4 separate regions of the Homo sapiens genome follow, and all the other regions are linked to region 1. Evidence: fine-mapped expression QTL. A gene starts in region 1. Each other region holds a variant in brackets. All regions are shown on one strand. Distances are from middle to middle. Region 1 holds the start of LSM6 (LSM6 homolog, U6 small nuclear RNA and mRNA degradation associated). Region 2 holds the start of LOC105377469 (a long non-coding RNA gene). Region 3 has its middle 18 kb from the start of REELD1. Region 4 has its middle 26 kb from the start of LINC01095.

What was found.
Region 2: its variant is fine-mapped to the expression of LSM6 in fibroblasts (GTEx, PIP above 0.99).
Region 3: its variant is fine-mapped to the expression of LSM6 in whole blood (TOPMed, PIP above 0.99).
Region 4: its variant is fine-mapped to the expression of LSM6 in neutrophils (BLUEPRINT, PIP 0.95).

Annotation. Positions count from the first base shown.
Region 1 is chr4:146,171,181-146,179,281 of GRCh38, reverse strand. LSM6 (LSM6 homolog, U6 small nuclear RNA and mRNA degradation associated) reads right to left here and starts at 3,564. Exons shown (of 4, transcript NM_007080.3): 1 at 3,471-3,564. RefSeq lists a silencer at 3,355-3,414.
Region 2 is chr4:146,101,562-146,109,670 of GRCh38, reverse strand. It overlaps LINC01095 (long intergenic non-protein coding RNA 1095), which reads left to right. Exons shown (of 6, transcript NR_038331.1): 6 at 1-216. LOC105377469 (a long non-coding RNA gene) reads right to left here and starts at 3,994. Exons shown (of 3, transcript XR_939294.1): 1 at 3,912-3,994; 2 at 1,591-1,786; 3 at 46-133. RefSeq lists an enhancer at 3,381-3,430. The variant A/G (reference allele first, on the strand shown) is at 3,689.
Region 3 is chr4:146,192,927-146,201,035 of GRCh38, reverse strand. No RefSeq gene overlaps it. Among named protein-coding and RNA genes, the nearest start is that of REELD1, 18 kb to the left of the region's middle. The variant G/A (reference allele first, on the strand shown) is at 4,035.
Region 4 is chr4:146,143,963-146,152,071 of GRCh38, reverse strand. No RefSeq gene overlaps it. Among named protein-coding and RNA genes, the nearest start is that of LINC01095, 26 kb to the right of the region's middle. The variant A/G (reference allele first, on the strand shown) is at 4,711.

The sequences.
Region 1 (8,101 bases):
GTCTCTTGAACCATAAACACATAAGAGGAAAAAGACCTTTCTTCAGGGTCACCCTGGTAAAACTTCTCCTTTCAAAATTAAAGTCATAATCACTCTCTATACCTCCTCTCCCTCCCCTGACTCCTACTCAGGCTTGTTTTAAATGACCTATTTTCATAAATGACTATTAAGTCAAAGGCAGTATATTTTCTGTCAGAAGCTACTGAGAGGTCTAGTATGAAAACATCTGCAAAGTGCCCTGCAGGGAATTTTTTTCTTTTTGGTAAAAGAATGAAGAAAAAAAAGAACTTTTATTAACCCAACTATGTGCTACCAGAGTTAGATTCATAAGCAATTTACAGAGAAACCCTGTGAGGTGGAAAGCAAAGCCAAGGCTGACCCCAAAGCCCAAGCCCTTTCACAGGTACAGCTGCCCTTCTGAATATGTTAAGATTCTCTGGTTAAATCTTGGGGAATCGCAATAGAGGCGGTGAGAAATCCAGTTGGAGAGTAGCAGCACTGGGGAAAAAAAATACCTAACGTGACAAAGTGCTGTAAATTAGCCTCAGAGAAATACAATGGACAGATGCAAAGAAATCTATCTCATGTGATTTGAGTTATGCCACTGAGCAGAAGACATGAAAATCCTTATTTCTTGGCAATGTTTACCTGTAAGTTTTTACCTACTCCTGGCGTATTTACAGTTTAGGGTGAAAAGAATTTGAAAAGCAAAAATTGCAAGGAAACATTACAATCCAAGTAATTGCAGCACTAGACTAATAGATCAGTGTCTGAGGAGGCGATCAGATAGGCAGAAGAACAGCTCTCTAAATCCTCCCTTCGGACACAGTGGAGTTCCTCGCTGTCTTTTGAAGGCTTCATACCAATCCCTCCTTCCTCGGCAGCAGGGGCTACTTCTCTCCCTCTCTCCCAAAGGCGAAGTGAGTCCACTCAGAGCACCTCTTTCCACTCTCAGTCATGGCCCTTATCAGGCTGTTTCGTAATTTTTCCATTTGCTGACTGGTCTCCCGTGCGAATTTAAAGCTTCTTGGGGACAGGGAAAATATCTTACTCACTTGGTGTCCCTGGTACCTAAGCACACTACCCAAGTCTGTGGAAGAGACATTCAAGGCCAGTGCCAAGCAAAATCCCTGTCCAGCCCCCATCAGCCCAAACTATGGATACAGTGACCAGTAGGATCATGCATGTACTTCAACAAATACTAACCAAGTAATCTCTATTATGAGCACCAAAAACTGAGAAAACAACTGTTTGTGTCATTCAAGAACCAGCTGTTTCCAAATCTAGAGATGCTTGTTAAAATGCAGATTTTCCCGAAGTCTACTCAGGTAAAGGCACTGTATTTTACATTTTATAAAGTTCTCCAGATAATTTCTATAAGCAAATGGTTCTCATCTAGGGGCAGTACCCCCAACCCTGCCCCACCCTGCTCAGGGACACTTGGAAATATCTGGGGACACTGAACTGTCATGACTGAGGAAGGTGGTGCTACTGCTATCCTAGTGGGTAGAGACCAGGGATGTTGCTAAACATTTTACAACTAACAGGACGGCCCTCCACAACAAAGGACTGCCCAGCACAAAATGTCAATGGAAGTTGACAATCTCTGCTATAAGCCCTAAATAAAAAAATAAATAAAAATAAATAAAAATAAAAAAAATTGTTCTTTGGTTTTAAAGTGAGGAGTTTTAAAGAAATCTCCAAGGTACCGCAAATGATAACCAAAAGCTACATTCTAACCAAATGATGGAGTGTAGGTTATAATTAATCAGGGGTGTTTTATTCTAACATATAGGGAACCTGAAAACAACTGTCAAAATCTTGAAGGGGTTGCCATTCTAAATAATGGATTTCTAGTCTTGGCCATGAAAATGATCACTTTCCAATTTTTCAGTGTTACAGGTCTCTCCGATGATTAAAATCTGTTAGTACACTTTTAAAAGGAGAGAATAACCCAGGTGATGTAAACAAATTTTTAAATTCTAGTATCTACTATGCCACAGTTCAGTGAGAGACTGCCTGATACAGCACAGAGTACTCACTTGGGAGGCAGGAAACCTGAGTTCTAATCCCAGCTCTGCTACTTAATTAGCTGTGTGACTTGGATAACTCATAATTTCACTTCTCATGGCCCCAGGTTCCTCATCTGCAATATAAGGGAGTTATGCCAGATGACCACTTAAGTCTCTTCCTGCCCTAACATTCAGGTAGTCTAACGCATTAACGCCAGTGACACACACACACACACACACACCACAAACACAAGCCTCTCAAGATTTCTGCACAATATTTAAGCAAGTAAAATTACCAAACATCTCTAAAACTTTTTTGGAAAACACTGCAGCAATGTGTATGAAGGCCTAAAACAGACCTTTCAGATGACAGCATCTAATCTGATAATTTCACTTCTGAGAATCTAGTCCAAGGAAATAATCTAAAAAATAGGGGGAAAAGAGTTTATCAAAGCACTATCTGGGATGCTAAGATGATGTAAAAATTCAAAAACAATCTAATGTCCCACAATCGGGAAATGACTGAATAATTTACGGGACCTAAACTGGGACCCACAATGATAGGACAATCAAAAGAAGATACAAAATTAGAATAATATTTAGGAAGAGTTTTTAAATGGAAGTGGAAAACTACACTGTTAAGTGATTAAACATGTACACTCTTAGTTCAAGTAGAAGCTAGCACATACAAGAGAAAATGATCGTAGGTGAAAGGGTTCAGTGAATATTATTTTCTTCACTAAAGTCTTCTATGTTTGCAATTTTCTACAATAGTCACGTATTACTAAGAGCAGTGGGGCAGGGTAATCCGCATCATCTTAATCCTACACACCTTAAAAATGCCTGCTATGCAGGTGTGCGGACACGCATACGCACAGAAAACCTTGGGCGATAGGACTTAAGACCATACAATCGGGTTCCTCGACCTGACAACTTGGTAAGACAGGCGAGTCCAGCCTTTAATTCCTGTGGTCAGGCGCAGCCACCCCGATGTAGGAGAGGGTTCGCAATTCCCTGAAGCCCTCCTGGAAGACAGGCGAAGCCTAGGCCTGGGTTCGGGATCCGCTTTCCCGCCGAATCTTGGGATTAGCGTCGGGGCTCCCTGGGGAACTTCAACAACCTGAATTGATCTCGGACGCCAACTCGGTAGGAGCCGGGACGGTGCCGCTCCTCTCCGCGCAGTCTAGGCGCCTCGCTGAGGGCGGTCCCGGCGCCCACCATCAGACCTCTCCCAGCCATTCCATGCGCGGAGAGCTTGGACGCGGCATTTCGCGGGGACCCGCCACCCAGCGGTCCCTTCCCGGAGCCCCAGCCTGTTCACCGCAGGCCCTTTCCGGGGCTGCCTCGCCCGGCCTAGGGCCGCTGCAGCCGCCGCTCCACAGCGCGACTGAACACTGGGGCACCGAACCTGGGGCTGCGCCCGGCCCCGTCGTCGGCCCGCGCAGCGGTGCGGCTCACCTCGCCGGCGGGAACCAGAACCCTCACTCCAGGCGCCCCACGAGCCCGGCCGCCGCGGATGATCCCAGCCAAAACCGAAAGCGCCGAGGCAGGGGCACTTTTCTGCCTCAGCCAATCAGTGCTCTTCTCTGCTACGGCAGCCCGCTGGGGCCGAAAAAGCCTGTCAGCACCAAAGCGCGCAAATCCAAGATTCCTGGTTTGTCTAGTAGCAAAATTGGTGCAGTGGAGTTCCTCTAACAGAAATCTGAGTACAAAACAAATACAATACAAAACAAAAACAAAATTCCAGGAAACTAGAAGTGATCTTTTGGGCAGGATTTATTTACAGAAGTGTAAAAAATAACTTGAAGTCATAGGAAACTGGAATTTACTGTTTAAGTAACGGCATTGTGTACCCAGAAACGTCCTTGAATAGTTTAAAGCAAATAAATAAATAAATGAAACACCTCAAGTCTTTAAATCTACCTCTGGATATTGATTAAATGTGTGAAGACTTAAGCCATTTTAGCAAGAGACTGTTTCCATGGCAATGTTAATTGATACAAAAATAATCAAAATCACTCAAGTAACTCCAAATTATAATGACATTAATTGTGTTACATTACTAGTTCCTATTGGAAATGGTGTGCAGACTTATTTCAGTGCTACTATGGGAACTTGGTTTGGAATTTTGCATGAATTCTCAATACTCTTTCTATTAATGGAATTGAAAGGGAAAAAGAAGAGAACTGTTACACCAGGACTTGATTCGTTTTTCCCCCTCCACATATACTCTCATCAGTTGAAAACTTATACTTTAATTATATTTATGATTTGTAACACTATACACAGAGTGATAAGATCTTTCAACACAGATCCTTAACCCCATTAGGTGTTATAAAATCTAAGATGCAAAATTTTTTTCGAAGATAAAGAGTTCCTCCCTTGTAAACTTCTTTTGGTTAAAGGCAGAAGAAATGAACTTTTGATTGATATCAGGGACAGAAAACAACTGGATATGATTTGTTAAAGAATAGAGACTTCCTTATATCCTTCTATAAAAGTTCAGTTTGGATAAAGACCGAACAGTTACTGATTTATTGTGAGGGCTGTATTTGAAGTTCTTGCAATATAAAATACAATGTAAATAAAAATTTTAAGAAAAGTACCATTTAAATCAAATAATTACGTGCAAAGAACAAACATAATAGGATAAAAAGCCCTGTTCCTAAAAACTTTCTTTGCAAACGACATCAAATTGCACATTCCTTACTGATTGTTTAAATTATTAAAAAAAAAAAGAAAATTTTTGATTCAAACTTCTTTCCCTTTCCTACAGAGCCCTAATCGAGCCGTTAACACTAGTGTGGTGGGTAGGGAGCCATGAGGAGTTTTAAGGGCCTAGTTCATCTGCTGAGCAGCTGCAACCTTCTCTAAGGGGAGTAGCTGGGTAAGGGCCCAGTTTGACACACGGGGTGGGCATCCTGAATTAATTCATGAGCTAACAAGCTTATAAAAAGTGTGGCTGTTCCCAAAAGCCCCTCAGCAGCTTATAAATGACTTTTACTAACTCACAAGGCAATTTTCCGTATTTCCCAGGTTTTTGCTTTCAGCATCTTTTATGATGCAAAGAAAACACTGCAAGACTTTTGGTGAATACTAGTCTTCAAAACCCTGAATGTAAACATTAATTTATTAAGGAGCCTTAAAGTCATAAAAATATTTTGGCAAGCTTTAGTTTAACTTATGTAGTTTAGTTTCATTTAGTTGTTAGGACTGATGAACCTACACTGACACATCATTATCATCCAAAGGCCAAAGTTTACATTAGGGTTCACTCTTGGTGTTGCACATTCTATAGGTTTTGACAAATGCATAATGAAATGTACCCACAATTACAGTATCATACAGAATAGTTTCACTGCCCTAAAAATTCTCTGTGCTCCACCTATTTATCCCTTCCTCCCCACTGGCAACCGCTGATCTTTTTTCTGTCTCCAAAGTTTTGCCTTTTTCCACAATATCATATATTTGGAATCATACCGTACACAGTTAGTGGTGCATACACTGCACCACCCCACTGTGTAGCCTGTTCAGACTGGCTTCTTTCACTTAGAAATATGCATTTAAGACCCCTCTGCGCCTTTTCATGGCTTGACAACTCATTTCTTTTAAGTTCTGAATAATATTCCATTATTTGGATGTACCACAGTTTATTTATCCATTTACCTACAGAAGGACATCTTGGTTGCTTCCAAGTTTGGGAAGTTATGAATAAAGCTGCTATGAATATGTGTATGCAGGTTTTTGTATAGAAATAAGTTTTCAGCTTATTTGGGCAAATATCAAGGAGTATGACTGCTAGATCATATAGCAAGGGTATGTTTAGTTTTGTAAGAAACTGCCAAACTGTCTTACAATGTGGCTGTACCATTTTGCATTCCCACTAGGAGTGAATGAGAGTTTCCATTGTTCCACATCCTCATGGGCATTTGGTGCTTCCAGTCCTTTGGATTTTGACTAGTCTAATAGCTGCTTAGTGACTATCTCATAGTTGTTTAAAGTTGTAATTCCCTAGTGACATATGATATGGAGGATCTTTCTATATACTTATTTGCCATATGTATATCTTTGGTTGTTCAGGTCTTTGGCCCAATTTTGAATCAGTTTGTTCTTTCTTTTTGTTGAGTTTTAAGAGTCCTTTGTATATTTTGAATAATAGTTCTTTATCAGATATGTGTTTTACAAATATTTTCTCCCAGTTTATGGCTTGTCTTTTCATTCTCTTGAAGCTATTATGCTTAAAATAGACAAATGCAGATATATAAATGCTAAGAGAACTCTTGCCACTTCATTGTTTGTCCCTTCTACAGTTCTATAGTACATATGCCTTTAAATAACTATGTCCTTCAATGTTTCATATTCATAAAAGATGGTCTCATGTCTAGCTTATTAAACACCCAACAGCCCTGTGAACATGTAGATGAATGTATTGTGATGTTGTTGTGGTTGTTGTTGATGATGATGATGATGATGATAAATACAAACATGTAATTGGATTGACCAACACTCTCCAAAGCAGATTTTAATATGTAACATGGATGTTAAGCTTCCAAGAATACTGGCTGGTCTTGTTGGAGCAATGCATTAACTGGTATGAAGTGCTGGCATGGACCTGAACCTTTCCTGGACCTTCAGACTGTACAATAGGAGCTCATAAGCTGTGATGTGCTAGTTTTGGATACTTGGGGCCACCATTATCTGCCTTTAATCATGGGATATGAAAATTATTTGTTATAGAAAATGAAGAGAGGCCGGGGGCAGTGGCTCACACCTGTAATCCCAGCACTTTAGGAGGCCAAGGTTGGCGGATCACTTGAAGTCAGGAGTTCAAGACCAGCCTGGCCAAGATGTTGAATCCCGTCTCTACTTAAAATTAAAAAATTAGCTGGGTGTAGTGGCACATGCCTGTAATCCCAGCTACCTGGGAGGCTAGGCATGAGAATCTCTTGAACCCGACAGGCTAAGGTTGCAGTGAGATGAGATCATGCCACTGCACTCCAGTCTGGATGATAGAGCGAGACTGTTTCTTAAATGAAGAAAGAAAGAGAGAAAGAAAGAAAGAAGAAGGAAAAAAGAAAGAAAGAAAGAAAGAAAGAAAGAAAGAAGGAAGAAAGAAAGAAAGAAGAAAGAAAGAAAGAAAGAAAGAAAGAAAGAAAGAAAGAAAGAAAGAAAGAAAGAAAGAAAGAAAAAGAAAGAAGGAAAAGAAAGAGGGAGGGAGGGGAAAAAAGAAAATAAGGAAACAGACAGACACTCTCTGGTTGTTGAATACCTTCTAAGAAGTGATACAAGCTCATTGACTGGTGGGCAAATTTCTCAGAAAAAGTAGTATGTCGTTTTGCTTACCCAAGGAAGTGATATATTCTACATCATGGGCGCTTGGTTTCAGATGTAACATGTGAGATGTTTAAATAATGTTCGGACTTCATCAGCCATCATTTTGGCATGACTTGAATTTTAAAAGAGATAGGATCAGAGTCTGAGCTCCTGGAAGGAGAATCTCCCAAATGCTGTGATGCTTTATACTCCACCGTGAACTCTAGAAAACCTCTCTCAGCTGTAAAATTTAGTGAAATCGGTGTGAAGCTGCCCTTGTATTTTAATCAAGATGAACTTGAAAGGTGAACATTATAAGTGGGAGAAATTATTTATAATTTGGTAATAAAAGTTTATGTCTAACACTCCAAATTTCATACATCTGCTATGTGCTGGCCCTGAGATATAAAACAATTGAAGTTGCCTTTACATTTGGCCTTATATGAAAGGTCATAAATTAGAGTGATAGCGTTCATCCTCTTTCCTAGCTCACAAAATTTCCATATTAACATCTTCACCTCAAACATAAATGGTTACCCAGCTACAAAGAAAAGAGTTGTGTTGGCCTTTATGAATTATAGTTTATGTTGGAAATCTGTGCTACACAGGGCTGCTATTCAGCTTGTAGGAGAGTACATCTACTTCAATGAAGCTAATTCTACCACAGTGAAACCAATTAAAATCATATGGCCAATTTAAATAAATATAGTATATAAACACTTGGGAATACTTTCAAAATTAGCAAATGGTTGCCAAGGTATGTGATTCTTTTAACT
Region 2 (8,109 bases), 70 kb after region 1:
TTCAAATTGGAAGGGACGTTATCATCCAAGATTTCAACTTTCTACTCACTGCAAAATCCCTTCTGGAACTTCCCAGATTGATGAATTTTCATCAGCTCTGCTTGAGTACTCCCAGTGACTTGGAAAAAAAACACTGTAATATGGATATGAAATATAAACTGTTCATGGATAAATTATTGCATAATAAAAACATGCCTAATGGCTACACTCCCCTAATATGTTCATTTGGTAATTATTTTTTATTTGCAAACTTGTTTTGATAGAACTGTTTCTTTTAAAAAGTTTAATTTGTCTTGAGATACATTTTCCTTTTATATCTTCTTATTAATGGGCTTATTTTCAAAGAGGAAGGTACAGCAAAGGTAAAAGAAAAAACTCATTTTCTCATGTTGTTTTGGGGTAAAAAATAAAGGCTAACAGTGGGTGAGTGATCTTTTTAATATTTTTAGTTAATTTCCCACACATACTTTAAAAAGTTACTATGGTACTGTTTTCTCCTACTATTAAAAATCTGTTTGAAATGAACTACTGGAAAAGTTAGGACATCATAAATCATCTTAAATAGAATAATTTATTTGATGTTTAATCCCTAATTAAGATGAAAATATCAATTGCAGCTGTTCGTTAGGTATGTTCTTAGTTTGTGTTTGGGCCACAGCAGGGGAAGAAAACCCAGAATTTCATAATTTTAAAGAGATTTCTAAATGCTCTGTGTTACACAAAACTTGCAAGTATGGCATTGTGGGAGACAACAGCAGTGTCATAGCTGACATTTGGGTTCTGGATTCAGACTGCCTGGGTTTAAAGCCCTTCAGTCCCCATCTTGATACAATGTTAAAAACATTCAAAGTTTTTAGCACAATGCCTAGCACTTTAGATGCCCAGTGAAATGCTGATATTATTTTTCCTTGTCCATTGAGATCTGTTTTGAAGTATAGGCAAAGCTTGGGACTGAGAATAAAGAATCAGCATCAAAGTCTTATAGTTCATCGTTTTAAAACTGTTTTCTCCAATTTATCCAAAAATAAAATTGAGGGAGTAAGATAGCCCGTGGTTAACATATCAAAGCACCAATAGACAGATTAGAGACTAAGAAGGTACATGAGCACTACAGGCTAAGATGTGGCCAGAACGCATGTCAGGTAAGAAGGGATACCCAGAAATCCTATCTTGGAGGCATCAGGTGAGCATGAGCAAAAGGATATCCCAGGCCAAAGGAACCTTGAATTAAGCAAGCTCTTTACAAGTCCTTCCTTGTGAGGAAGGAACGGCCCTGGGCCAGGCTTCCAAGGACTTCCATTTTAGTCCTGGGTCTGCCTTCTGTCACATTTCAGGCAGGCCATTTAAATTCTCTGAGCCTCAGTAACATTTTTTTTCCTGCCTACCTTAGGGTTATTGAGATACTGTGTGGGAAAGGCCATTGAAACAAAGTTTCAGAGCACTATCTATAAAACACCACATTTTATCACTAATAATCCCATCTTCTAATGTAATTACAGACTTCCCAGGATTTAGCAACCAGGGCCTGGAAGGCAGACAAAGGTAACTGGCCCCATGTGATAAAAACAGGTACAAACTTTCTTTTCTTACCTCACAAGCCTAGCTTAGTGCTGGACACTCAGCAAATGCTAACAAAGTGCCACGCATTGGTTTGAAAGGGTTCACTTCAACCTTGCCTTCTTCAGGAAGCACTTACAGAGAGCACTTTTCAGTGGGTAACAATGTGACGTCAAATGCTCAGTTTAAAACCTCCTTCCAAATAAAAGGAAATTCATCCTAGAAATGGCTAGAATGACAGAATGAAAACAGAGCAGTATCTACCTGGGCTTTAGTGCCAGGAAGTGACAGTCATTGGCTATGTGTTCAATTACATGGCCGAAGTTAATAGGTAATCAAATATTATGCAATAATAGATTAGTTGCCTTTCCTTGTTGCTAATTATCTAAAATATCTCTATATTGCATATTTAAACATAAAAATTTCCCTAAGGTGAATGATACACTATGCCATTTTTAGTGATTAAATGTGGCATTTTCTGCATCTTAATGAAACCATTATTTTTGTTCAGCTGAGTGATTTTATTAATTAAAAGAATGTCAGGAGAGTGGCAGCATGGTCATAGAGTTCTCAGAGAGTCGTAGCATTATAGAGCCATAAAGGACCTGACCAAACCCAGCCAGGGACTCTCAGTTTACCTGTAATTCTCCACCTGGAAGTCAAAAAGCTGGGTTCTGATATCATCAGTACTATGTGACCCCGGGCAAGTCATTCCAACTTTCTTTGACTGAGTTTATTCTTCAGACAAGGGATCTGTAATGCCATGATACTTTAAATTAAGCTTTTCATGTTGACATATGTTTATATATTGTTACACTAATAATGATGTGTCCCAACAAAGTATGGTTTTCTTTCTCTTTCTGACAACAAACACAGGGACTAGCTGTATTTGAATTCTCTGTTATTGGGAAAAAACATGGCTTTTCTTAATAGGCTGTAAATAACCTGAGGGTGCAGTTTGGGGTTCATAATTTTGTGTCCCCCATGGTGCCTTTAACATACTACTAGAAAGAAATAGAATTTCATTGTTGCGTGTTTCAATGTATTTCGGACCAAAGCATCCTGCTCTGAAACATCATTAAGGGAAAAAAATCCTAGCATATTGTGGGCCTCCAATGAAATGAATGTTAATTGTGTTGCCCAATACCAATTTATTAACGTTTATGAGCATACAACTGTGCGTGCACAAACACAGTTCATATATAGTTCTTGAAAAAAGCATTTGGGGTTTTCTACCACATGATGCTTTCAGTCAGTACCTCCTACCATTAATTTGTGTTCAGAGCAGTAGTTCCCAAAGCTACCCCTTCAGCAACATGTATGTTGACATGGATGTTGAAATGGATGATGTAAATACAGCCATTCAGAATAATCTGGAATCCTATTTTATGATTTGGAATGCCCAGAATGTCCAAGACATGACATACTTACAATTTCTCAGAAAAGTCACACCTGAAAAAGGTAAACACTCAACATAGACACTTAGACTTTCCAGGCATCTTAGCTACAAGACCAATGGTGTCAGTATCTTGAGTTCTGTGTTCTATAGGAGCTTTTTTTTTTTTTTTTTGAGATGGAGTTTTGCTCTGTTGCCCAGGCTGGAGTGCAGTGGCAAGATCTCGGCTCACTGCAACCTCTGCCTCTTGGGTTCAAGCGATTCTTCTGCCTCAGCCTCCCGAGTAGCTGGGACTACAGGTGCTCACCACCATGCCAAGCTAATTTTTGTATTTTTAGTAGAGATGGGGTTTCACCATGCTGGCCAGGTTGGTCTCAAACTCCTGGCCTTGTGATCCACCCACCTCGGCCTCCAAAGTGCTGGGATTACAGGAATGAGCCACCATGCCGGGCCCACAGGTCCACCCACTACTCCAGGAGTGTGTCGCTTCCTGCACTGGTGACAACACAGGGAGCCCATGATGTGCAAGTTTCACAACACATGTGGTTCGTTTTCCTCCCCTAATGACTCAAGAAGAGAGTTTTAGAATTCAGGCTGAGTCTCAGTAATTCAATTGTAGAAAAAGCAGGCAAAGCTGTAGCTCTGTCTTAATTAGTTTCATATGTGAATGTATTAATTGTTTCATTAGGAAATGTATTAGGTAAATTGAATGTGAATGTGGTGGATAAGGACACA[A/G]AAGAAATCCCTTGAAGGTTCATGATTGTTCCATGTGTAGGCCCGGGAGCATCTTCATTAAGGCAGGCAGTTTTGGGCCACCCGATCATGACCATGGATCTACGTGCTGGAACTTGAAAGTATGTCCACGCTCAAGATTTCTGTCTCTTCTAAAGCAAGAAAGGACTGGTTTTGCATGCCCTGCCTATGCACATCTTTATGAAAATGTAACCTTTTCACTCACTTTCTGAACTCCACAAAAGAGTCAGCTTTCTCCTGTTGGTGATGAAACCAGCTGTTGAAATACTTCAATTGGGTTGCAGTTGCTTCTCCTGTGAGCTGCATGGCCATCTCTTCTTTTGTTTCAAAAACTTGGCTGGCACTTTCAGCAGCCACTGTGAAGTTGGTAAATATCTAAATGACTTCTTCATTTTCTGACCCTTGAACAGAGAAGTAGAAGATTTTCTGTGTTCATAACTAGCATGTCTGGATTGTGTAATTTCATCTTTGCAAATATATCACCAATTCAAGGAACAGCTTTAGCTTGTTTGGTTTTTGAATAGTGTTGACCATTATTTCCTAAAGAAAAATCACCCAAGCCTTCCCTGAAATGTTAGTATTGTGCTAACTGAGGCATTGGCTAAAAAAGAAGTGTGTGTATGGAGTAGGGGGTGGGTGTGGATGGAGACAGGGTAGGAGGGGTTCCCTGCTTTTATAAATCCGGCAAGCCTGCCTTTGACAGTCTTTCATGTTGGCTTTATTCTTCCCTTTGGGAATTTTCCGAAGTCACTTTTGGCCTTTGTTTATTTTAAAGGAAGTAGAGAAACAGCCACAAGAGGAGGAGAGGAATATAGTTGCCTACAAATCGACTAATGTGTTTTTTCTCTCTCTATGTTACACAACAGATATATAACAGCGCTTCCCCTGCATTGAATGGTAGAGATCAGAGTTTCTAAATTCCAAAAAAAAAAAAAAAAAAAAAAAGTCAAAACTGGTACATTTTAGAGATGAGGAATAAGCATAGGTGGGAAAATGTCTGCAGGCATAGGCAGCCTTGGGCAGGTCTGATCTGACCCATTCTAATCAGTTATTGGGAAGAGAGTAATTATTAAGGCAGGGGAGGTGACAGTCACCTCCACCCCCAAATCCTGGGGGCGCCATGTAGCCCAGGCCATCCTAAATGGTAGGTCACTGACTTTCAAGAACGCCTGGGTAAAGCACATTACAAGAAGTGCCATCCTCTTTGAGCAATACATATGCTATAGCTGGGCTGTGTGCCAGGCCAAGGGGACCTGCCTGTTGGTGGTGAGGATGCTTTCCATGAGGGGGTTGTGTGGACTAGCGCCCTGGAGGAGGCAGCCCCCCTGATTTTCAGCGTGAGAGAAAGATAATCCTAATCCCATCAGTGGCCCTCACTTGTAGTGCTATATGAGCCAGGCCCTGTGTTGAATTTTTCACATTGATTATTTTTAATGATCCTTAAACATAGAGAACTATTATTATTCTCTTGAGAAAATTGAGGCCCAGGGAGATAAAGCCACTTACTCAGGGTGCATGATGAGGTGGCAGAGTAAAACTCAATTCCATGTTTTTCTCACCAGAAGACCCTTGCTCTTATCCCCCACATCTTATGTTTGTTGACACCACTTGTGGTTGGTACCTGAGCTTATTCACTTCCCGTGGCCTTGTTCCTCCGTTCCTTTATTTCTCTGTTGGCTGTTTCCCTCTCTCTCTCTCTCTCTCTCTCTCTCTCTCTCTTTCTCTCTCTCTCTCTCTGTCTCTCTCTCTCTCTCTCTTTCTCTCTCTCTCTCTCTCTCTGTCTCTCTCTCTCTCTTCTTTCTTGACGGAGTCTCACTCTGTCTTCCAGACTGGAGTGCAGTGGCGCGAGCTCGGTTCACTGCAAGCTCCGCCTCACGGGTTCAAGCCATTCTCCCTCCTCAGCCTCCCGAGTAGCTGGGACCACAGGTGCCTGCCACCATGCCCGGCTAATTTTTTATATTTTTTTAGTAGAGACAGGGTTTCACCCTGTTAGCCAGGATAGTCTCCATCTCCTGACGTCGTTATCCGCCCACCTCTGCCTTCCAAAGTGCTGGGATTACAGGCTTGAGCCACCGCGCCTGGTCTGTTGCCTGTTTCTTAAATCTTCCATCCTGGGGGATGGGAGGTGGAGAGAATGAAAAGGAGCTACTGCCATCCCCACCCCCAACCCCCTCACCTCCACCCACCCCGACCGCCATTTACATTTCTATTTCATTTTCACACACATGTCCATTTAAGTCTTCATTGCCCCCAAGCAAGAATATTTCAATGTCAAGACCTGCCACAGCATAAGGACTTTGCCCACAGCACTACATTTAGAAGTGATCATGCAAATTATTCAAGTGGCCCAAAGCCTTGATTGTGTAGACAACTTCAGTGGAAAATGCTCCATTCTGATCTCAGTCCCCATCTTTCTCAATTCACTGTTGAGTCTTCACAAAGTATCCTACTCAATCATCTCTTTGACAGTCCAGATGGAACAGATAAGGGAGGAGACTCTTTTCAAGACAATTCTTAAAAATATACGCAGAATAATATGGGGAATAGGCACTCTCCTGTATTGTTCTCAAGTAGGCAGGATGGAAGGATCTCTCTAGCAATTTGATGATATATTTTAAAACTCTGAACAATATTTACGTTCTCTGATCAAATGATACTGCATGTAGAAATTTATCCTAATTCAATAATCGTAGGCATGTGCAAATATTTGCATGCACAGAAATGTTCATCATGGAATTGGATTATAATAGTGAAAAACTGGGACCGAAGTGTCAGTGATAGGCGCTTGGCTCAGTAAATGATGACTCATCCATACATTATAACATTATACAGTTATAAAAAGGGTTTCATAAGGAATTTAACGATTTAAAGAAATGATCCTGAAATATTAAGCAAATATTTCAAGAAAGTTCTGTTCATAACGGCACTCACTAGTCACATGTGGTTATTTAAATTTTAATTGATTATAATTAAATAAAATTAAATATTTAGTTTCTCAGTGACAGAAGGCACATTTCCATACTCAATAATTATATTGGACAGTGCAGATGTATAACATTTCCATTATTTGCAGAATTGTGGGCACTAAATAGAATATGATTTCATTTTTTCCAATATATGTATACACATAGAAAAATATTAGAAGAAAATATGCCAAATAATAATGATGATCTTTAGTTGGTGGGATTGGATGAGAGGTAGGCACACTTTTTCTATAAAGGGACTAATAGTATTTTGCTTTATTTTATTTTATTTATGTGTTTTGAGACAAAGTCTTGCTCTGTCACCCAAGCTGGAACACAGTAGCATGATCACAGCTCACTTCAGCCTTGACCTCCCAGGCTCAAGCAATCCTCCTCCCTCAGCCTCCCGAGTGGCTGGGAACACAGGTATGTACCACCACACCCAGCTAGTTTATTTTTATTTTTTATATTCTTTAGAAACAGGGTCTCCCTGTGTTGCCCAGGATGGTTTCAAACTCCTGGGCTCAAAAGATCCTCCCATTTCGGCCTCCCTAAGTGCTGGGATTTTAGGGATGAGCCACAGCACCCAGCCCATAGTAAGTATTTTAGACTTTGTGAGCCATGCAGTCTGTGTCACAGCTACTTCATCTGCCATTTCAGCAAGAAAGTAGCCATGGGTAGCACATAAGTGAATGGGCGTGATTGCATTCCAATAAAACCTTAAAGACAAAGATAGGTTGTGGGCTGAATTTGGCCCACACGCCATAATTTGCTGACCTTCCAGATTAGATAATTAAGAGTAAGGTTTTTTTTTTCTGTGTACTTACTTATATTTAAATTTTAAAACTAAGTAATGTGTATCCTTTATTTTTAAAATAAAACTCAGCCTTTCTAAACACCAATTAACATTCAAGCTAAGAGCCAAATTAAAAATGCAAACCTATTTACAATAGCTGCAAAAAAATGAAATACCTAGGAATATATCCAACTAAGGAGGTGAAAGATCTGTACAAGGAGAACTACAAAATACTGCTGAAAGAAATCACAGATAACACAAATAAATGGAAAAACATTCCATGCTCATGGATTGGAAGAATCAATATTATTAAAATAGTCATACTTATCAAAGCACTTTACAGATTCAATGCTATTCCTATCAATCTACCAATGTCATTTTTCACAGAACTAGAAAAAATATTTTAAAATTCATATGGAACCAAAAAGCTAAAATCACCAAAGCAATCCTAAGCAAAAAGGACAAAGTTGGAGGCATCACATTCCCAAACTTCAAACTATGCTATAAGTCTGCAGTAACCAAAACAGCATGATACTAGTACAAAAACAGACAAATAGAACAGTGGAACAGAATAGAGAACCCAAAGATAAAGCTGCATGTATACAACCATCTGATCTTTGAAAAAGTAGAGAAAAATAAGCAAT
Region 3 (8,109 bases), 22 kb before region 1:
TTGCAGATATATAGCACCTGTAACAAAGAAACTGCTCAGTAGTTTTTACCCAGGATGATAATGATAGTGGCATCAATGATGATGATGATGTTACAATTACAATATCCTTCTAGTTTAGTAGTGTAGAAGGTATAGGTTCTACATATTTTAATAGATGTAGTTTCTAGACCTATTAAAATATTCTGTGGTCTTGACATGCCTTCTTTAAGTGAACCCATATTGGCTTTTAAACCACAACTTTTTTTTCTACATATTTTCTACTTCTTTTGAGTATTCACGGTTTTTGCATCAAGGTTGCTGGTCTGTTGTTTCCCTACCCTTTCTTCCTTTTTAAAACCAGGGCATTTATTTGCTCATGTCTCATTTTCCTCAATGTCTCACAGGTGCCTAACAGTGTTTCCTGTGTCACCTGCAAGTTGCTTTGTGCAGTGTGATATCATCAGTGCCCCTGGAGAGTTAACTTAGAGGAGTTCCAGTCTTCTTTATTTTGGTGGATTCCGTTTCTCCCCTAGAAATATTTTCAGCTTGGAGATGATTCTTTTTGAAGGACAAAGAAACAAAATAAGACCCGAGTTGCCTGGCCTCCACGCCATCTGTTAACACCAGGCTATCCTCATTAATGAGTGGCCTTGTCCCTTTGTTGTCCACTTTATTCTGAAAAGTCTCAGCATATCTGGGAGTTTGGTCTTCTTTTCAAGTAATTATTTTAAATTTTAATTAACATAATAATTGTATATATTATATATTTATGTGCTACAATATGATGTTTTGATATATGTTTACATTGTGGGATGATTAAATCAAGCTAATTAACAAATCCAACTCCTAACACATTTATCATTTTTTTGTGGTGAAAACATTTAAAATATATTCTTTTAGCAATTTTGAAATATACATTATTATACATTCTGTGTAATAGATCACTAAAGCTTATTCCTCCTAACTGAAATTTTGTACCTTTTGATCAGCATCTCCCTATTACCCAGCTACTCAAGAGGCTGAGGTGAGAGAATCACCTGATCCTGGAAGGCTGAGACTGCAGTGAGCAGTGATCACATCACTACACTCAAGTCTGGGCGATGGGAGTGAGACTCTGTCTAAAAAGAAGAAAAAAAAAATCAGTAACATTTATTTACACTAAAAATGAATTACCTCAAAAAGAAATGAAGAAACCAATTTCATTTACAATAACATTAAAAAAAAAAACCACTTAGGAGTAAATTTCACCAGGGAGGTGAAAGATTTATATACTGAAAACTATAAAACATTGATGATAGAAATAGTAGAGGACACAAACGAATCGAAAGGTGTCCCATGTTCATGAATTGAAAGAATCAATATTGTTAAAATGTCCATACTATGCAAAACAATTTACAGATTCAATGTAATTCTTCTCAAAATTCCAATATCACTTTTTAAGGAAATAGAAAAAACAATCCTAAAATATGTATGGAACCACAAAAGACCCCAAATAGCTAAGCAATACTGAACAAAAACAACAAGCTGGAGGCATCACACTGCCTGACTTCAAAATCTATTACAAAGTTATAATAATTGAAGCAGCATGGTATTAGCATGAAAACAGACATACTGGCCAATGGAACAAGACAGAGACCCCAGAAATAAGCCCACATATCTAAGATCAATTGATTTTAGAAAAAGGTACCAAGAACACACAATGGAGAGAGGACTGTTTCTTCAATAAATGGTGCTAGGAAACTGGATATCCACATGCAAAAGAATGAAAATGGATGCTTATCTTGCAACACATACAAAAATTAACTCAAAATGGGCTTGGGCTTCTTGACATATTCAGGTGCAAGTGGTTTAAAGTCTCTGGACCCAGACTGCTGGGTTTAAATCTCACCTCTGCCAGTAACTAACTGGGTGATATTGAGCAAGTTTCTTCCTTTCTGTGTGCTTCAATTTCCTCATTTATAAATGGAATAATAATATCAATTTCATAGGGTTGTTCTGAAGATGAAATTAGTTGTAAAGAGCTTAGAACAATGGCCAGCACAAAGTAAGACTTGAATATGTGTTAGCTCTCTGAAGGCTCTCTTTTTCTTTCTCTTTGGAGTTTGTATTCAAAAAGATACTTTACAAATTTTCATAAACTTTCTGTGTCTTCCCACAAGATGATATTTTTTTTTTCCTGAACTGAACTTTTTATAACTGCTTTCACAAAGGCTGGGATATGTGTCTGACTACACTTAAGATTTATTTCAGCTGGGGGAGGTGGCTCACGCCTGTAATCCCAGCACTTTGGGAGGCCGAGACAGGCAGGTCCCGAGGTCGGGAGATCGAGACCATCCTGACTAACATGGTGAAAACCTGTCTCTACTAAAATACAAAAAATTAGCCAGGCGTGGTGGTGGGTGCCTGTAGTCCCAGCGACTTGGGAGGCTGAGGCAGGAGAATGGTGTGAACCCGAGAGGCAGAGCTTGCAGTGAGCCGAGATCACGCCACTGCACTCCAGCCTGGGCGACAGAGTGAGACTCTGTCTCAAAAACAAAACAAAAAACAACAACAACAAAAGATTTATTTCACTCCCTGGCATACTCGCCAAGATGACAGCCACCTTTTTTCCCAAATTCCCATCAATTCCCCGTTCAATGAGCATTCTCTCCTTATGAGTCCAGTGTGTTGTTTCTTCTGATTTCTAAGCAGTAAAACTGTCAGCCCAACAAACCAAAAATGCATCAGATGGTCAGCTTGCAGCAGAATGAACTTCCAGCAGATGGTAGAAAATTAAGGACCTTATTACTGCACTGCAACTTGCCTCTTTGCCAGTGTTTTCAAATTTTCAAATAATAATAATGAGCCTGATGCTGAGGATGAGAGAATTTCTATCTGGAAGCCAAAATGCTTACCAAAGACCTAGGTAAATTATCTAAAGACACCAGGATTTTGTTTCTATGTAATTATTTGTCAGCAGGAAAACAGCAAATGAACACCAATATCTCAGGCACCTTCAGGCACTGGAAATAAAAAGCCAAGAGAAACACAGCTCTGCCCTCAAGGAGCTTCCGATATACAATGGCACTGAAATTGATCTGGTCTCACTGTTGTAAAATCCTGATAGGAAACTCTTTTCTTCAGGTTTTGTCAAGTTCCTAAAGTACCTAGGTCAGTGGCATTCACACACCAACTGCCCACAAAATCACCAGCTATGTCAGGAGAACAGCTTCCACTGAGATACAACAGGGACTCCAGCACAGTCCCTTCCCCTCCACACAGAAAGCTTGAGGAAGGGTCAGCTTGTTAAAATAATAAATAAGTTGACATGAAATTCAGAATAAGGGCAAATAGGAGAGAAATAATGCCAAGATAATTTAGGCGAGGTAGGGGTAGGGGATTCCAACTACAGAGTTTAAAAGCTGGCTTCTCCCATAAAACAGAAGTAGAAAGAGGGAGAAAGAAGAGAATCATAATTTGGGGTAAATTTCACTTCATTAAAGGGAAATGAATGACAGCAGCAAAATTGATCATGTTAAAAGTCTGCACTGGTTTTTAATTAAAAAGAATGGCTTTCAAATTATCTACCTAGCTGGACATAGTGGTGTGCTCCTGTAGTCTCAGCTACTCAGGAGGCCGAGATGGGAGGATCACTTGAGGCCAGGAGGTTGAGGCTGCAGTGAGCTATGACAACACCACTGTACTCCAGCCTGGGTGACAGAGCAAGACTCTGTCCATTCCCCACCGCCCCCCGCAAAAAAATTCTCTACCTGATGATCATTCAACCTGGTTTTCCTTTCAGTTAAAATAAATTCATTTCTCTGAACAGGGTATATAGGTTCACTCAGGAAAACAGTTCTAATCATGGGAAATAGTATCTATTATCTATTATCTCTCAACCTCTCACCCATCTATTTTAATTTTTTTACAATAGATGTTCCCCTTTTTTCTGGAAATGCAAACACAATACGGCATTTTGATCAAGGCTTGCTATATCTCTTTGACATCCTGCATTTTTCCCTCACAGTACTTAAAGTGATCAGTTTCAATGAAAAGTTAAAAAAAAGTTCTAGGCC[G/A]GGCGCGGTGGCTCACGCCTGTAATCCCAGCACTTCGGGAGGCCGAGGCGGGTGGATCATGAGGTCAGGAGATCGAGACCATCCTGGCTAACAAGGTGAAACCCCGTCTCTACTAAAAATACAAAAAAAATTAGCCGGGCGCGGTGGCGGGCGCCTGTAGTCCCAGCTACTCGGGAGGCTGAGGCAGGAGAATGGCGTGAACCCGGGAAGCGGAGCTTGCAGTGAGCCGAGATTGCCCACTGCAGTCCGCAGTCCCGCCTGGGCGACAGAGCGAGACTCCGTCTCAAAAAAAAAAAAAAAAAAAAAAAAAGTTCTAATGTTTTATAATACACTGAAAAATGATAAGAATAAGAAAAGAGAAATTGTAAGTAAACATGTCACAAAAAATGTACTTAACACAAAATGCACAACCTAACATGGTTGAATTTAAAATGATTGCATGGTGATTTTAAGCAATGTGCCCAAGGTTGGGGGTAGAGTGGTTTTGGGGTATGGGCTGTGCTCAAGGAATGGGGCCTGGGAAAGTCCTAAGTACACAAAATGAGAATGAGGGATACAGAGAAGGGGGCCAAGTGACATGGCAAATCTCACGTGAGAAAAGACATTAAATTACTTCAGTCTTGGGGCCAGGCATGGTGGCTCATGCCTATAATCCCAGCACTTTGGGAGGCCAAGGCAGGTGGGTCACTTGATGTCAGGAGTTCGAGACCAACCTGGCCAACATGGTGAAACTCCGTCTCTATTAAAAATACGAAAAGTTACTCCAGCTACTGGGGAGGCTGAGGCAGGAGAATTTGCTTGAACCCAGGAGGAGGTTGCAGTGAGCTGAGATCATGCCACTGCACTTAAGCCTAGGCAATAGCGTGAGACTCTGTCTCAAAAATAAAAAATAAAAACAAATTACTTCAGTCTTCATTCAGCATCTGAGCAAATGAGTCACTGACAAAAGAACCACAGATTTAGTCAGCATTGCCCAGGGAGGGAAAGTCGATTCAGATGCACACACAGCCTGTCTCCACTTCTCTCCTACAGACCTACTGGGTCTGATGATGCACAGCTTCTAACACAAAGGTCCAGCAAACGGCTGCTGGGAAACAGCCTGTTGAGTAGTAATTAGGATTAGAGAGACTCCAGGGAAGAAAAAACAAATTCTAAGAGACAGTCATCTCAAAAACTGCTAGTCTCTGCAAACAGTGCCTGCAGACGCAAGCCAAGGAGCAGTTTTCTACCTTGGCCCGGTGTATAAAGGGCTGTTGGCCAACTATTGATATTTCCTGTCACACTCAAGCAGGATGATAGCAAATCACTGTCAGCAACATCATCTTTGAATGTAGAGGACAGCAGTCTGTGTGCACACTTTGGGACCTTCTTCATTCGACTACTGGTAGGATGAATCAGAAGAGAAGATTGATTTATTAATTAAATGCATGCTAGAAGAAGAAATCAATGGAGCCCACACCTATGCACTTGATCAAATAGCAGAAGGAACTGTTACTGTAGTTGCAGCGACTCACCAAGTGACCCTCGGCAAGTCACTTTAACCTCTTTGCTTCAGGTTTCCTCATGTGGAAAAAGGGACTACCTTGTTCAGTGACTACGAGAGGAGAATGTGAGGATTAGCTTAGTTGGCTAATGAAACCAAGGTGGAGGTCTGATCCTCATGAGTCTCCTCTACTGCACTCCCAGCATGGAGAAATCATCTCAGAAATCTATCTATGTCAGTGCCAGGGGGACAAGGAACAGGGTGTGAAGCAGGCTCTGCCAAGAATATCACAATTAGGAAAAAGACAAAAGCAAACTGGAGATCAGGTCCTGTTGATGGGACATCTTTGAACAAGACAGGAACACATGCACTTTCTCAGGAGGAAGATACTTGTAAAGAGTTTTGAATATACTGAAAAGGGAGAGCCATAAAAACCCACTGTATGAAAAGTGATAAGGTAAAGTTTTAGCTGTAACATGCCCTGTGCCTTTGAGACACATTTTACATGAGGCAAGTTCTGAGGTATACTAAAGACTCCATGATCATCTCCTCACAGTATGTGGATGGAACACATTTGGTTGGCTTGAGATAAAATTACCTGGTCTAATGAAAGATGGTCACCTTCTGCATTTTCTTTTAAATATAGGAATATATTAATTGGAAAATTGTAAATTAAACTGCAGCAACAAAACCAAACCAAAACAATCTATTCAGACTCAGCTTCTGAAACCATGAAGAAACCAGTTACTATTTTCTTTGGAATCTAATGAAAAATAGATTAAGACACCAAGAGCACAGGTCCCTCAACCCAAGTCTTAACAAAGAAAGAATTCTTTTTTCAATATAGTAAAAATCACACCGATGCTTTATACTTCTGAATGCTTTACTAATGATTAAGAAAATGTATAATGCAAAGGATATGGTTAACATACCATGATAGTTAACTTCATGTATCAATTTGGCTAGGCCATGGTACCCAGATATTTGGTCAAACATTACTCTAGATGTTGCTATGAAGCTATTTTTTAAAGATGAGATTAACATTTAAATAAGTAGACCTATTTAAAGTAAATAAAACAGACTACCCCCCATAATGTGGGTGGGCCTCATCCAATCAGTTGAAGGCATTAATAGGAAAACACTGACTTCCTTGGAGGAAAAGGGAGTTCTTCCAGCAGCCAGCCTTCAGACTTGAGTGGCAATTCTTCCCTGGGTCTCCAGGCTGCCAGCCTACCCTGCAGATTTTGGGCTTGCCTCCACAATTGTGGGAGCCAAGTCCTTAAAATCTCTCTATACATCCTATTGGTTCTGTTTCTCTGGAGGAACCATGACTAGTACACATCATGTGGTAGGTTACTACCACTGTTCACCAGTATTTCTGGTTGTCTCTCCTGGGTCCATGAAAGGATTATACTTTTCTGAAAACTTAAAGTAAGCCCTGACCGTGTAACTTGCTTTGCCTAATAATGGGGTAGAAGTGACACTAGCTTTAAGCAAAAGGTTTTAGGAGCCAGGGAGTGATCCTTTCTGCCCTTCCCCTGCCACAGCAGATGCTGATTCCTCAGGTTGAGATGGTGGAAACATAAGGTGCTACCTCCCTCGGCCTGGGCCCCCAGGTGACTGCAATCAGTGGAGTCCCACCTATGGGCCCCTGTGCACATGGAGCATAAGTAAGATCATTAGTTGTTTCAAACCACTGAGATTTGGGGTTTGTGACTAACACACTACTGTGGGCGGGGTATAAGGAGCCCTGTATCCCAGCAACATCCACTCTACCGTACATATTACACATTTTTAATTTTTTCATTTTTCCAAGTTCAATAAAACGTCTATTTGATATAAACACTGAATAGTGACTTGAAATACCGTATGCACATGATGGTAATAAAATTGCCTAAGATTGTTACGTAAACTTTTCATAAACTAACCTCTCCTTTAATCCAAATTATTGGTATATTGCCAAACTCACCAACATCCATCCCATTATAAAACTTGGAATAAATTAAGCCCATGTGAATTTGGACATTTGTGTAACCTAGGCATTGAAAACTAGCCTATCCCAAGTGTTTCAGTGTTTTATATTTCATGAAATTCCTGGAATATGCCTCTGCCTTTCTATCTGCTATAACTCCCAAATTACTATGAAGAAAATCCTTCAGTGCTGCAGATGAGTCAAAATGGGTCTTCAAATAAAAAAAAATCCAACATGACTGTTCAGTTAAACCACACAAAAGCTGGCTTTTCTAGGAGAAGGAAAAAAACAAAGATGGGAGGCTGAACTACCTGGGCCTGTGGGTAAACAGGGCATAGTTACGTTCAGATTTCAGAATTATCCACTCCTGAGTTTATTTGGAATTTCAAGATACGAACATACAGTTGAGATGCTCAAATCCATCTAAAATGTTCAGGTTTTTAAAAGAATTCTTACAATTTTGGCCCAATTTTTTAAAAAAAGGATGGAGGGTACCACTTTCCCCCATAAATACCCAAACCTACAAACTCAGTATGGAAGGTGCAATGTCATATTTCCTTTTTTATCTACCCCCCTAAGGTATAGCACAGTGCCTGCCTACAGCTGTCATCCAATAAATG
Region 4 (8,109 bases), 27 kb after region 1:
GTAAGGGAAGAAATAATATCCTTGGGACATAGGTGGCTAAGTGGCAAGGTCACAATATGCTGTAGTGGCTCTTAAACTTTGGCCCACTTAGGCTGAGCACAAGACTTCATGGCCCCCATATCATACCAGTTCTTATCTTTCAGGGTTTTGTTTTTGTTTGCTTTTCACCAATCGCATATATTTATACATGTAGAGCAAGAATTGCACAATATTGTAGGTCATGGTAGGCAGCCTTATTAGTATAATACTGAATCACCTTCCCTAAAATTTTAGTTTATAAATGGCAAGCAAAAGAAAAGTCTCGCTCTCCAGTTTCCAGTCTGACATGTAAGGAGCTTGGAAGTCATTTCTCCCATCTGTACAAGAAAAAAGCTGAACATACTAAAAATCAACAACTGTTTTTAGATCCATCTGAGAATTGAAGTCACAAGGCAAACCGCTGCCCTAAAAGTTGGAGAGATAGGTGGATTCAGAGAAACATGGTTTACTGGAGGAGAAACCTCCACAGGAACCAGTACCAGGGCCAGACAACCTAAACGGTAACTGATGAATTGCTAGAGGCCCCGTGTGGACAGCTTGAGAGTTAAAAATGCCAGGGGGAGCCCAGTCTTAGGGGGCCTCCACACTTTCAAGAGTTTTACCTCCAGGAGCCTTATTAGGTTCTTACAGTGAAGGTTACAAAAAAGTCATTTGTGCTTCCATCAGCAGGAGGGGACATGTACAGATGCTCCTTAACTTATAATGGGATTATGTCTTGATAAACCCATCATAAGTTGAAAATATCGTAAATGCATTTAATATACCTAACCTACCATACATCATAGCTTAGCCTAGCCTACCGTAAACATGCTCAGAACACTTACATTAGGCTAGAGCTGGGAAAAATTATCTAACATAAAGCCTATTTTTTTAAATGTTGAATATCTCATGTAACTTATTGAATACTGCACTGAAAATGAAAAATAGAATGTTTGTATGGATACTTGAAGTATGGTTTCTACTGAATGTGTATACTTTTTGTACCATTGTAAAGTTGAAAAATTGTAAGTCAAACCATTGTAAGTCTGGGAAGTCTAGAGTCATTTTGAAATATACCAGAGCTCTATTCCTCCTAACAAGACCTACCTTCAAGGAAAACCAGTTTACAAGAGCCTAACCAAAGTAGGGTCTACCAGAACCTAACTTACCTGGGGGGAGAAAAATAACCAACTCTAACCCTCTGTAGCCTTCCTGTCTCATCTAAGAGAAAAAAAACTGAAAAGCATGTGTGAAGGCCATGGTTCAGGGGCACAGGCTCACTGAAATACTGCTACCTAATCATAGGCCCATAGAATGATTCGCCTTTCCCCACATCATATCAACACATCAATAAGGCTCCTATACAATAACAGGAGATTACAACTGAAATAACTGCACCTCCCATACTTTATTTTAGAAGTCTCTAGGCCAAGCATGATGGCTCATGCCTGTAATCCCAGCACTTTGGGAGGCCGAGGCGGGTGCATCACTTGAGGTCAGGAGTTCAAGACCAGCCTGACCAATATGGTGAAACCCCATCTCTACTAAAAATACAAAAGTTAGCCAGGCATGGTGGTGCATACCTGTAATCTTAGCTACTCAGGAGGCTGAGACAGGAGAATTGCTTAAACCTGGGAGGTGGTGGTTTCAGTAAGCCGAGATAGCGCCACTGTACTCTAGCCTGGGTGACAGAGTGAGATTCTGTCTCAGAAAAAAAAAAAAAAAAGAAGCCTCTAAAGAAACCCAAAGATAACAGGAGAGACTAAAACAAGGCCACCAGAAAAAAAATTAGTCTCTGATACCTACAGCTACAGCAAACAGTAAACAAAGTCTAACTCTGGCCACGTAAACATAAAACCTTGCACTAAAAGTTTATTCTCTTCATTCTCTTTCACTCACTACATCACATGCTACTTTCAACAAAAAAAAATTACAAGGCATACTAAAAGACAAAAAACAGTTTGAAGAGATAAAGCAGAATCAGAACCATACTTAGATACAGCAGAGATTGTAAAATCATCAGACCAGGCATTTAAACCAATTATGATTAACATGTTAAGGGCTATAACAGAAAAAGTGGACAACATGCAAGAACAAACAGAAAGATAGTAATGTGAGTAGAGAGATAGAAATTATAAGGAAGAATTAAAACGAAATGCTGCAAATCAAAATCACCATAATGGTAATGAAGAATGCCTTTGGAAGGCTTAGCAATAGGCTGGACACAGCCAAGGAAAGAATCAATAAACTTGAAGCTATGCCAAAAGAAACTTCCAAATCTGAAAGACAAAAAGAAAAAATAATTGAAAAGATGAATACCCCCCAAACTGTGGGACAATTACAAAAGGAATAAATGCCAAACACTGGTCACCATGAAAGGAGAACTAATTCCCTGAGGTCATGTATCCTTGGGGCGGCAGGTAATAGAATAGCCTGTGGGCTATCCTTGCCTCTCACTCACTTTTCCCAGTCAGAAGAGAAATAACTTATTTGATTGGTGAGTTTGGAAAAAGAATTTAAGTATCTTGAGAGTACCACGTTTTTCTCTGTTTTACTGTTCTCACTCACCATGCAAAAAGTGCCCTGTCTCAGTTGAAAATACTGTATTTTTCCACTTCTGCCTTTTATTGTGTGGGTACATTTTATTCTGTCCGAAATATTCAGAAACCCATTGTTGCTGCACATTGATTTAGCATAAGTTAAGACAATAAACAGAACCTGAAGATGAAGCTTACATGCTAAACTTTATTGGGAAGGAGTGCAACCTTAGGACAATAGAGAGTGGGAAAACATAAATGAGGAGGGCAAGGAAGGAGAATAAATATAAAGTGATATATTATGAGGCTGGCCACAGCTTTGCAAAAGATAAAACAAAGGAAGAGAAAACCACAGCAAGTTATCTTGTCACATGCCATATATCCATACAACTATGTGGAACCAACCACCATCTCAAAAAAGTCCTTCGGTGTGTGGAGGGGAGAACAATTAGTTACTAGCTCACCTCCCCCTTATTTCTGTATACTGTCTCTCATGGGTCAAAATTTGCCCCATAGGACATTTACTCCCTTACACTTGTGGGTTGCATGACCTGCCCTTCCAGGCAGCTGATGGGGGAAGTCAGATCCAACATCTTCTGGGTGGGAAGAGCTAGGTCCTCAGTGGGTCCCATCAGTTTGGCCTAGACACCAAACTGCTGTGGCTTTCATCATGGCACACATGATGGCAGTAGTGTCCGAGCCTAGCCCTGGGAAAACCCATCTCCTGGGTATGTTAAATGAAGTGTGCCCAAAGTTGTCCCCAAGACAGGTAGCTATGGGCCCATTCCAGACAAATTCAAAGGATGCTTCCAGGGTGTAATAGTAACAGTAGCTTCTCATAGTAATCAGAGTGGGGTTTTACCAGCCCATATAGTTACCCTCCCTCCCTCTGCCTGCCCCACTCCTTTTTTTTTTTTTTTTTTTTTTTTTTTTTGCCTGCTACTCTACTAGTATGAAAAGTGGCTAAGGAGTAGTTGAAGCTTCCAGGTTAGTGGAACTTTCACTGTTTTGTCTGAATCAAGACCTCCCTTTCCTGGAACCAGGACCCTACCCAGGAAAACCTAGGTTTGAAGAGTGTGAGAAGCTGATCCTACTGTTTTAATTGACTTTTTCTTTACCCTGTTGGAGAGAGAGGAATTCCCCCTTTAGGTGTATGGAGTGGCCAAACACAACACCCAACGCTGGACAGATAAAACTGACAGCAGTTCATTAGTCACGTATACTATACTCACGGCCTGGGGAAGGACAGCATGCTCCATGCAGGGCCTCATGAAATTACACTTGAGAACAGTGAACAACCAGACCACAAGGGCCAAACTCTGAGCAAAGTCCAAATCCTTTCTTCTTCCATCAACTGGTTGTAGTCCCCTCCCCGTGAGGCCATAAGTGTGAATTTAGGGACAGCCACTGATGCAAAAGAGGTAGGTGACATGAGATTTGAGTCACCTGTATACATAATTTGTGGTATCTTCTGGATTAACTTGAGCCAAGTCCTGAATATACCATTTCCATCAAATAATGTTTCTGCCCAACTTTATGACTTATAAATCTGATCACATTGAGCTCACCATAGAGAAATATTCTCAAGTGAAATATCAGCTGCCTCTAAAATCCAAAGAAGGCCAAAATGCACTGTGCCTCTTTCTTGGTGGTAAGAGATGCAAAGGGCAACCATTTTTGCTTTATTTTATAAGGGGTTGTTCTGATGTGCTTTAGGCAAGTTGACAGGTGACTTGACTCCTAAAATTTTCACCAATGTAGAAGATCCTCAACTTCTGTGAAATTAATCTCCCACCTCTGGCATTCATGTGACTTGCCAGATATAGGGTTCCTGAAATCTCCTACTGATCAAGTCCAATTAGCATAATCTTCTCAATATCGTGGACCAGCATGAAGTTCTATGTAATGTCAAGGTTGCCATGGTTCCTGTGAAGTATATGATGACAGAGACAAGAGCTGACATAACACCGAGGCAAGACGGTGAAGGTGAGGCTGGGAAGTCCAAGACCAAGATGCCACAGATTCAGTTCTTGGTGAGGGCCTTCTTCCCAGTTTGCAGATGGACACCTTCTTGCTGTCTCCTCACATAGTGGACAGAGAGATTAGCTCTAGTGTCTCTTCTTTTAATAGCATTAATCACACTCATGGGGGCTCC[A/G]ACCCATGACCTAATTACCTCCTAAAGACCCCACTTCCAAATACCATCACATTGAGAATTTTAGCTTCAACACATTAATTTTGGGGGGAACACAAATATTTAGTCCATAGCACCACTGCTAAAAGTGGGAACCGTTCATGAGCCCTGAGTGTCCCTGTGCATTGTTGCTGGATGTGCGAAGAATACAAGGCTCTGACCACTCTTTACCCAGGTGATTTCTCAGGATTGTGTTTGCATTGAGCAACCTTGAAAAATGAGTTGCATAACCTCCTAGGCAATGCAAAGGTTTATAGTAAAAGCAGTAAATTCCCTAACTCAGAATCCCTCTGTTGTAATGCAATACACTAGGTGAGTTGGAATCCTCTTGGCCCACCTGAGTCATCACCATCGCTCCCCTCTGTGGGATTTAGAGGATACAAGGAACAAATACAAATGAACATGAAGCGCTGGTTACTGCCTTTTCTGTGAGTGCTAAAGCTGTTTGTGTCTAACCCAAGATCTTATTATGTCTTCTGCAAACTTCCATGAAACTGTGGGAGGGCTATTGTTAGCTTATAAATAGGGTGAAACCTTAGACCTTAAATATTTCTTGACAGCCAAAAAACACAAGCTGCTTCTTTTGCTAATAGCTATTAAGAAGAAAATCCTTGCCATATCAATAGCTGTATATCCAGTGTTAGAGGGTTGGTAGCCATAGTAAAGATATCTCATCTGGCACTGTAGCTTTGATTAGGTCTGTTTTCTGGTTACATCAGCATCATCCTCCAGGGTCCATCTGATTTTTACAGAGTCCAGAGAATTGAATCAAGAGAATATTAGGGAAATGAATCCCTTTATCTTTGGTGAGGGTGTTAATCTCTGTAATTCTTCAAGGATTGTGGTATTATTCCTGCAATTGACAAGAGATGAGGCCATTTTAGAGACTTAAACATGGCCAGTGGTTTTCAATCAGGGGTGACTTTGCCCTCTTAGGGACATTGGGCAATGTCTAGAAACATTTTTGGTTATCATAACAAAGGTCGTTATTGGCATATAGTGGGTAGCCAGGGATACTATTGAACATCCTACAATGCCCAGAATGACCCCACAACAGATAACTGTCTGGTTCAAAATGTCAAAAGGGCTGAGGTTGAGAGACCCTACACTTAGCCCTTCCTACCACAATGACTCTTACTCCACAGGACAGGCAATTGATTTGAGGGTGCAGCCAGAAGCTAAGTATATCTTCTCCATCATACTTTTGGGAACAAGAGAAATAATTGCAAAGTGGGTGTCCAAAACCACTTAACCCTTTAGTAGACAGACTTGGTCTCCATAACCCTCTCTTCTAATCAAGTCTCTGTTCTAATATGATGGTGTTTCAGGTCTCCTTTTGTCAGTATCATCTCATATACTGTAGCTGATAGTCCTCAAAAAGTCTAAGTTTTACTCTTTCCCTAGTGTCCAGTTACCCTGGCAAATTACTTTGGTTCCCTCTGGGGAAGGATCAGAGGACTACTTACTGTATATGCTTGCAGTGGCATTACAGGGTCCTTCCTCTGTGGGATCCAGAATCTCCTTCAATCAATGGACTCTGAGTCTGTTAACTGACTTAGATCTGGAAACTCAATGATGGAGTGCAGTTTTCTATTGTGGAAGGCAATGATCACCTTCTACGCAACAGCTCTTGATGTTAAGTTATCCAAATCAAGCATCCCCGCCCCTCGCCAGTCAGTTTCCCATTACAATACATCCTTGAAAGTAGGCACTCACTCAACTGGGGCCTTGCTGTTCACAAGGCTTATTAGATCTATCTTTTCCTTGATGGTTAATGGCTGCCACCTGGTCTTTGATCATCCACATTCCTTTTACCACCATGAATTAAAGGGGGCCCAATTCCAAAGCAGCACCTCCTACTGTGAACCTGGCCTACAGAGGACAGCCACCACTGGGTTTCTCAAAGATGCTGCTGTCCCACCACTTACTCTAACCCCATTTCCCCATGGCATTCTTTATTGCCTCATGAAGGCAGCCTTATGGGAAACATAATCAGGTGGTAGGTCTTACAAAGTGAATCTGTTCTCACATGCCTACCTCCTTGAGACTTCTGCCTCCTTTCTCAAAACTATGTCAAGGAAGTTCTCTTATCTCTACTTCATTCACTTTAGGCCATCATAGTGATTAGGCTTGAAGGCATCATTGTAGCAGCATGTAAGGACAAGCGCCAGGTGTCCTTATCAGAACACCAAATCCTCTGTCACAGTGGAGTGGTTCATGTCAATCCGTTCTCACCGATCCAGCCCGTGTGCCTCCTACAGTCTAATGCCTTCAAGATCCATTCCCACAGGTGTTCCCACAGTTTCTGCCAGCACATTTCATCAAGGTCAAGATTTCCTTTGGCACAGAGGCTATGTATTCCCCAGCAGGAAGAAAATTTGCCTGGAGGCAGTGAGAGGAGGTTAATGTGGGTGTTGAGGAAAAGTTTAGAATCAGTGTGATTTTGGGGGCACCTGCTTCATAAGCTTGATCATTGCATGCTTACCAGGCAAGGGGTGATTCTTTACCACTACCAAGGGGAAACAGTCTCTTTTGTCAGTCAGAAAGATCCAGGCTTGCCTACAAATATCCCCATTCCAGGTCTCAATTTTCCACTCTTCCCTATCAAGACCCTGACTTTAATATCAAGTCCCTATTGAGACTGCACATTTAGTTTTATTTATATATATAAAAACTAAATATATATATATATATATATATCTGCCACCCTTATAATTACATCCTAAACCAATTTTAAGTGCAGCTTCAGGAGATAAGCACCTCATTTAAACAGAGCCTCTGGCTTTCATTGCATGACTTAAGTTGATAATAAGATGCCCTGAGTGTATCATTTTCTTTTAGCAAAGCCTCAAATGTCCCAAAAACAGCTCATCTGCACTGCAATTGCCACCCCTTTACTGACCAAAGGCGGTAGCTCCGTGATTTTCCAGGTTTGCTCTCCACCTGTACTTCATCCCAGTTAACCACAGGTGAAAGAATTAGCAACTGTGTATCCACTTCTAGAGGCTATTGCTGTCCCAATTATCTGATTGTTTTCAGACAGATGGGCATCAAATTCAAAGTCCCACTCCAAGGTCCTCCTTTCTAGGATACTTCTTGTACTAACTTTCTTAGTAAACAAGAAAGTTTACTAAGCTTGGTGGCTAATGCTTTATTTTTTGGTAGTATAATCCCAGGCTGGGCTGAGTCAAGCAAAAGGGGAAGTGAGGCAGGGAAGGAGGGACAGCAAATACAGTGTGGTCCATTAGTGAGCCGGCCATAGCTTCGCAGGAACACGCAGCCAGTTGTTTCATCATATGAGATGAATCTCTATAGACTGTTATGAAACACTAAGAACAGCCCAATGAGGAGAGTTCCAGTTTT